2 linked regions of the Homo sapiens genome follow. The protein of the gene in region 1 purifies or fractionates together with the protein of each later gene. This does not show direct contact. Each region holds a gene or a part of one and is shown in the gene's direction. Other genes may lie near its edges. The genes, in order: CYP3A7 and ODR4.

Region 1 (4,404 bases):
TCACAGGGCTCACAGGTGGCAGCAACTGTTATTACAGGCCTCATCTCTACCAGCTCCTGGCACCTGCTCTCCTCCCATTAGAAAATCCTCCACTTGTCAAAAAGGAAGCCATTTGCTTTGAATTCCAATTCCACCCTCAAGAGGCTGGGACCACCTCATTGGAGTCCTTGATGCTGTGTGACCTGCAGTGACCACTGCCCCATTGTTGCTGGCTGAGGTGGTTTGGGTCAACCTGGCCATCTGGGCAGCTGTTCTCTTCTCTTCTTTCTCCCCTACTGTTTCCAGACATGCAGTATTTCCAGAGAGAAGGGGCCACTCTTTGGCAAAGAACCTGTCTAACTTTCTATCTACGGCAGGACTTTTGAAAGCTACAGAGGAAGAAGCACAAATTGATGCTATTCCACTAAGCCATCAGCTCCATCTCATCCATGCCATGTCTCTTTTTTAGGGGTCCTCTTGCCAACAGAATCACAGAGGACAAATCTGAAAGTGCAGAGACAGCAGCTGAGGCACAGCCAAGAGCTCTGGCTGTATTAATGACCTAAGAAGATGGAGTGGTCACCAGAAAGTCAGAGGAAGTGACACACAGGGGCCCAGCAATCTCAGCCAAGTCAACTCCACCAGCCTTTCTGGTCCCCACTGTGTGTACAGCACCCTGATAGGGACCAGAGCCATGAGAGTGAGTAAGACCAGACTATGCCCTTGAGGAGCTCACCTCTGCTAAGGGAAACAGGCCTGGAAACACACAATGGTGGTAAAGAGGAAAGAAGACAATAGAACTGCATGAAGGGGATGGAAAGTGCCCAGGGGAGGAAATGGTTACTTCTGTGTGAGGGGGTTGGTGAGGAAAGACTCTAAGAGAAGGCTCTGTCTGGCTGGGTATGAAAGGATGTGTAGGAGTCTTCTAGGGGGCACAGGCACACTCCAGGCATAGGTAAAGATCTGTAGGCATGGCTTGTTGGGATGAGTTTCAAGTATTCTGGAATGAGGACAGCCATAGAGACAAGAGGAGAGTTAATAGATTTTATGCCAATGGCTCCACTTGAGTTTGTGATAAGAACCCAGAACCCTTGGACTCCCCAGTAACATTGATTGAGTTGTGTATGATTCTACATAGAATATTAACTCAATGGAGGTCAGTGAGTGGTGTGTGTGTGATTATTTGCCAACTGCCGAGGTGGAGAAGCCTCTTCCGACTGCAGGCAGAGCACGGGGGCCCTGCTACTGGCTGCAGCTCCAGCCCTGCCTCCTTCTCCAGCATATAAACAATCCAACAGCCTCACTGAATCACTGCTGTGCAGGGCAGGAAAGCTCCACACACACAGCCCAGCAAACAGCAGCACGCTGCTGAAAAAAAGACTCAGAGGAGAGAGATAAGGAAGGAAAGTAGTGATGGATCTCATCCCAAACTTGGCCGTGGAAACCTGGCTTCTCCTGGCTGTCAGCCTGATACTCCTCTATCTGTGAGTAACTGTTCAGGCTCCTCTTCTCTGTTTCCTTGGACTTGGGGTGCTAATCAGGCCTCTCTTTCCCTTATCTGTTTTGAATAGCAAAAAGGATGTTCAGGCTGGCCGTGGTGGCTCACACCTGTCATCCCAGAACTTTGGGATGCTGAGCAGGTGGACTGCCTGAGGTCAGGAGTTCAAGACCAGCCTGGCTAATATGGTGAAACCCCATCTCTACTAAAATTACAAAAATTAGCTGGGCATGGTAGTGCATAACTGTAGTCCCAGCTACTTGGGTGGCTGAGGCAGGAGAATTGCTTGAACCTGGGAGGCGGAGGTTGCAGTGAACTGAGATCATGCCACTGCACTCCAGCCTGGGTAACAGAGTGAGATTCCATCTCAAAAAAAAAAAAAGAGAAAAAAAAGAAAAAAAAAGATTTTCAAGGAGAAGTAGCTTAAGTGTTGGATGCTACAAACATATAGAGGTTATGATGGATGTTTTGCAGATCTATAAAGGAATAAATAAGCATCTCCCCCATTCATCTTTAGTGGAAAGAAGGGTTTAGGGACAGCATTGATTGAGGATAATCTAATAGACAATGGTTTGTACCCAGCTTACCAAACCAGAATTTGGATTTTACATTTTTCCCTTTAAGTTGCAGGAGAAGAGGGTGAATCTTCTCACCAGTGAGATCCTGGCATCCTAGAGCAGGTGGAGAGAAGAGTCACTCCCTACTGTGTGTACTGGAGGCTTCCCGCCTGTCACATTTTACTTCTAACTCAATTTCACAGTTATTAAGAGTAAGGAATCATGGTCACATGGAAACAGAAAATACAAACCTCGTTTTAATTCTTTCACAGAAAAGTTAGCAATTCAGTGAGTTGTGGTAACATAGTTTCCATCTACTGGCAATTTAACATGAATTGGTGTGGCTTAAATTCATCCTTTTTAAAGCCAGATTTTTTTGGAGATAGACTATTTCCAGCATGTTCCTTCTGAGTGATAAAAGAGGGCTATTAGTTCAGTATTTGTGACAATAAATGTGTATAAGATAACCTCACCTTTCCAGAATAATGTCAGGAATATGAGTCTAATGTACAAATATATATCTCTAGGACAAGACTGCATATGTCTTTTTAAAAATACTTTCCCAAGAGTTTATTTTAATACCCCCATTTCAAATACACCTGCTTAGCAGGTTATCCTAAACTCTCAGGGCTAGAAAGTAAGCAAGACTGTGAGCCAGTGATGATAGCAAAAGCATCCAGGTAGGATCAAGATGAAGTGAGAAAATATTCCTTACCCCTCAGGGTAGAACTCCAAATAGATATTCATGGGTCCTGGCCCCCTAGTGGAGGTCACTTGAAGGACAAACATGTTGGCATCTCATCTGCTTGAAGCCTGGACACAAGGGCACCATCAGTGTCACTCTGTGTGTGGCTGGCCATGTTGTGGGGCTGTCACTACAGATTCTGGCAGTCAGGCAGACAATACCTTAGCCTTAGACGATGCCGGTACAGCCCAGGATTCAGAAGCTATAGTGTAGACCATGCCCTTCTTAGGCCTATACAATTACATGCAATAGATGATGGATTTTTCTGTTAGCCTCTTCATTGTAACAAAAAGCAGCATTACTCTACCAAACAGAGGGGAGCTGGAAAGAAACTAAACAGTTTGCCAAGCACAGCCTCTGCCTTGACGTGGAATCATGTGAATCTAGACACTCACCTAGATCTTTCCTCGGGGGCCAATGCTGCTCACACATTAACTCAATAGTTTGTCCTGGCCTGAGAGATCATGTAACATGTAGAAAGTTTAGAAGCAGAGATTAGTGCCATTGATTTTCCATGGCTGTGACAACAAAGGAAGGAACAGGAGTGGGAAAACCCAAGGCCACCCTGGTTGTGGTAGATGGTGCACACACTTCCACTAACTATTCTGGGGCAAGGATCCAAATGCACTATTGGGCCTGGCTATGCTGTCTCTGCTGGGTTCTCCAAACACGAGCCTCCATGCTGTTTCTTAGTTGTATTTTACCACATATTATCAGAGTCACTGGATTTGTACAGAATGTTTGGAACCTATACTGCCTTAATGGCTACCCTTTAAAGAAGAGAAAACAAGGTCTTAATTCAACTATCTGGAACATTTTATGGTTACTTATGTGGAATACTCCATCTTTTGCTATCAACAGGAAGGTACCTGGCCATTAGAAGGTGCCTGCCTTTCAGCTGAAAGCACATATGAGGCATATGGATCCATTTATACACACCGTACTTTTGAACCACATTTTCCTAATTTGCCTGTCTGGGGCCAAGCTTGTGGGACTAGCAGATTCATGGTTGAATTGATGGCTGGCTACCTCTTCCATCAACTTTTCTGCTTCATCCAGTCTTCCACCCCTCAGTAACCTCAAACTGGGAAGGTCTTCAGATATCCAGAATCCCCAGTTGGGGAAGTCCATACATGGCCCATCAAAGATGGGTTGCAAGCAGGCCTGCTATAGGGAGCAGCAGCCTTGATGGGTTTTCCTACAGAGACAGTTGATGTGCAGACGCAATAAACTGACTGCTTTGTAATTGATCACCTTGAAAAAAAATGAGCATGTCTGGCTGTATTAGTCTTTTCTTCCATTGCTATAAAAAAAAATCTCAGGGTGGGTAATTTAGAAAGGAAAGAGATTTAATTGGCTCATGGTTCTGCAGGCTCTACAGGAAGCATAGCGACTTCTGCCGCTAGGGTGCCCTCAGGAAATTTACAATCATGGCAGAAGGTGAAAAAGAAGCAGGCAGATCTTACATGACTGGAGCAGAAGCAAGAGAGGGTGGGGAGGAGGTGCCACACACTTATAAACCACCAGATCTCATAAAAACTCATTGTCAAGAGGACAGCACCCAAGGGGGATGGTGTGAAACCATGAGAAACTGCCTCTAAGATACAACCACCATCTATCAGGCC
Region 2 (3,818 bases), on another chromosome or scaffold:
ACATTGACAATTATAAAGGAAAAATGAGTAATACTGAAGATATAATTTTATGGCTACATCGCTGACTATAATGATACAGTAATTTAGGAATTAGGGATAGGAAGAACACAGGCTACTAAGGAGTTCAAGTCTTAACATTTCATTTTAAGCTTCTAAATAGTTCTGCCTACCTATCAGCAGCTTGGAATGAAATCTGAACACGTCTGCAACTTTTGCATGCATTCACAGCCCTTGTTTTCTCTCTCTTTTTGACAGCTGCTCAAGAATACTCTTAACATGATCAGTTTTCGATTTGTCTGAATTTGAAATGACTTGGTTTTAAGGAATGGTTGAGATCTAGTGTTCTATTGAATCACTGTGTTATTTGCATTTAAATTTCTTGTAATATATTAAAATATTGGTGAAATAACACAGTGCCTGAGATTTGGTTTAAAAATCCTACAAGCCCCCACCAAAAATAAACAGACAAATAAATTGCTGTGATAAGGCCTTATTCATTATTGAAAAACATTCTGCTTCGGTAAAATTATCTCAAATTTGTATCAAACCTCATGATTTTGTATGACAGATTTAAAAATGGAAATAGGGCAATGAAATGTCTTTTATGAAAGTAAATTATTTGCTCAGAGTACGATCTTCTAGAGCATGATCTTCATATGTAATAATTCAATATTAAATATATAAGTAATATATTATGACAACTAAAACAATTTTGTTTTTTTATATGCAAGTATTCAAGTAATAAATTTCCTATAGCAAACAGGTATAATTCATACCATCCATTATTTTTGTTTGTTATCTGATATAAGGATTTTATTGGCCCAAATATGGGGGAAAAAAACAAAAACCTTTTTTTTTTTTTTTGAGACAGTCTTGCTCTGTTGCCCAGGCTGGAGTGCACTGGCACTATCTTGGCTCACTGCAAGCTCTGCCTCCTGGGTTCACGCCATTCTCCTGCGTCAGCCTCCTGAGTAGCTGGGACTACAGGTGCCTGCCACCATACCTGGCTAATTTTTTTGTATTTTTAGTAGAGACGGGGTTTCACCATGTTAGCCAGGATGATCTCGATCTCCTGACCTCGTGACCTGCCCGCCTCGGCCTCCCAAAGTGCTGGGATTACAAGCGTGAGCCACTACGTCCGGCCAAAAAATACCTTTTTAACAGAGATATTTGCTCATAGAAGAGCCGAAGTTTGTTTTTGTTTTTATTTGATGTAAAATTGTATGAGCCATTCAATTTTTAGACCTATGGACTGAAGTTGGAAGAAATTTTAAATTACTGAGCTAATATAGTCTAGAACTGAAGTATTATAGCCCTTGAGAAAACTACAAACTGGAAATATAGAAGACTAGATATTCCTAGAGACAGTTCATAAGAATTTGTTTTTCTTTGTGACTGGTTTGATATGAGAATAGAAAAAAAAAGGGGGGAGGGTTTTTTTGTTTTTTGTTTTTAAAGTATTTTAGTTAAATGCTAGAAGAAGAAAAAGAAAAAAGAATAGTGGTGCCCTTATTTCTAATAAGATAGTTACTAGGAATTGTTTATGAAAATCATAAACTTTTCTTTGTGAGAAATTAATGAGAAGTAGGTAATTTTTTTTCTTTTTCATCCATTTTAGTATCATATATACCTATTTCAGTAAGTTTATATGTCATTCTTTTGAGCTTGTGCTCCCATATTGGGGTGCAAAGATGTCTATAAGAACATTGTAAATTCAACAATAGGCTATTTTACTTTAAATTTAAACAGTAATATTTACTATCTCTCTTGAGTTCTCTCTCTCTTTTTTGTGGGGGTGAGGGTAAATAAACAGATAAATCTAAAGTAGTTGCTTTCATAATCTAGTTCCCTGGAGTTCTATAGAGTAGCATTCTAATGTCACCTCTAGGATGGAAGAAAGAAGCTGGTCTGACTCCAGGAGTCCTCCCTCCCAGCTTCAGCCTGGGTAGCATACTTTCATCTTTTTTACACACTGGGAATTTCTGTCAGATTTTCTTTGTTTTCATAGGATTCTTCAGTCCTAGGGGAAAAAAACAGAAAACTATTAGCCTGTGTGGTCTCTGAGGATGCTATCAGTTCACACACTTTCATTCAGCATTAAATAAATTCGGATAGGCCAACCTGCATAAATTGCTGTCAGCATAATGAAGTAGAAAGAGAACTTGTGTCCAAATCATCAGTCAAATGCCTGTGATGGTCGAAATGCACTTTAACCTCCCAGGTTATGTTTTCCATTTGTAAAATGCGATGATGTCCTTGCCTTGCTTACCATTCTGAGTTGTTTCAAGGTCAAATTTTTGATCATAGTTTCAATTTCAAGTTGGATCCAGAGTCAGCAAACTTTTTTTTGTACAAATAAATATTTTAGGCTTTGTGAGCCGCATAAGGTCTTTTTCACATTTTTTTTTTACAGTCTTTTAAAAATATGAAAAACAGATTTTTAGTTTAAGAGCTTTTACAAAAATAGGTCATGAGCCAGAGGCCCATGTACTGCAACGTGCTGGTCAGTGGTTTTATTATTAATATCTAATTATTTGAAATTATTAATTGCTAAAACCACCAATAATGATATAAATTAGACTGGGCATGGTGGCTCACACCTGTAATCCCAGCACTTTGGGAGGCCGAGACAGGCAGATCACTTATAGTCAGGAGTCCGAGACCAGCCTGGCCAACATGGTGAAATCCCATCTCAACTAAAAATACAAAAATTAGGCCAGGTGTGATGGCTCATGGCTATAATCCCAGCACTTTGGGAGGCCAAGGTGGGCAGATTACCTGATGTCAGGAGTTGGGGACCAGCCTGGCCAACATGGCAAAACCCCATCTTTACTAAAAATACAAAAGTTAGTCGGGCATAGTGGTGCACCCCTGTAGTCCCAGCTACTCGGGAGGCTGAGGCAGGAGAATTGCTTGAACCTGGAAGGTGGAGGTTGCAGTGAGCTGAGACCACGCCATTGCACTCCAGCCTAGGCAACAGAGCAAGACTCTGTCTCAAATAAATAAATTAAATTAAATTTAAATGCAAAAATTAGCCAGGTGTGGTGGCAGGCGGCTGTAATCCCAGCTACTCAGGAGGTTGAGGCAGGAGAATCACTTGAACCTGGGAGGCAGAGGTTGCAGTGAGCTGAGATCATGCCACCGCACTCCAGCCTGGGTGACAGAGTAGGATTCTGTCTCAAAAAAAAAAAAAAAAAAAAAGTAAATTAATCTCAAGAGCGAAGTTTACTCTGCTATGAATTTTGGTATAAATTTATCTCTACTACTATATAGTAAACAAATTATTATTATTGTTACTTTTTTTTGAGACAGAGTCTCGCTCTTTCACCCAGGCTGGAGTGCAGTGGTGCAATCTCGGCTCACTGTAACCTCCGTCTCCCGGGTTCAAGCAGTTCTCCTGCCTCAGCCTCCCAAGTAGCTGGGACTACAGGTGCACACCACCATGCCCGTCTAATTTTTTGTATTTTAGTAGAGACGGGGTTTCACTGTGTTGCCCAGGCTGGTCTTGAACTCCTGAGCTCAGGCACTCTGCCTGCCTCAGCCTCCCAAAGTGCTGGGATTACAGGCGTCAGCCACCATGCCTGGCCAACAAATCACAATTTTTGAAAGTCATTCAGAACTGGCTGTGTGGCCCTCTGGTTTAGTTCAATGATAAAGCTACATTGTTTTGAAAACTGTTAATTTGACGTATATTCTATTAAATTTAATTCACCTACAATTGATAATGAACAAATTCAGTATGTTATATAAAAAACAAGTAGAAAGAAAATGGTGATGATCGTATAGTTTTTTATAATGTTCTTTAAAGCTCAGTTTCA

The links.
Region 2: the proteins of CYP3A7 (region 1) and ODR4 purify together in Homo sapiens (affinity purification with mass spectrometry, with the first as the bait; one large-scale study listed by BioGRID). This does not show direct contact.

What each region holds. Positions count from the first base shown.
Region 1 is NC_000007.14:99,732,082-99,736,485, reverse strand, and holds the start of CYP3A7 (cytochrome P450 3A7), read left to right. Parts: upstream 1-1,289; 5' UTR 1,290-1,392; coding exon 1,393-1,463; intron 1,464-4,404. Other genes in the region: CYP3A7-CYP3A51P protein, read left to right, coding at 1,393-1,463. UniProt on the Homo sapiens protein: A cytochrome P450 monooxygenase involved in the metabolism of steroid hormones and vitamins during embryogenesis.
Region 2 is NC_000001.11:186,413,676-186,417,493, forward strand, and holds part of ODR4 (protein odr-4 homolog), read left to right. Parts: intron 1-3,818. UniProt on the Homo sapiens protein: May play a role in the trafficking of a subset of G-protein coupled receptors.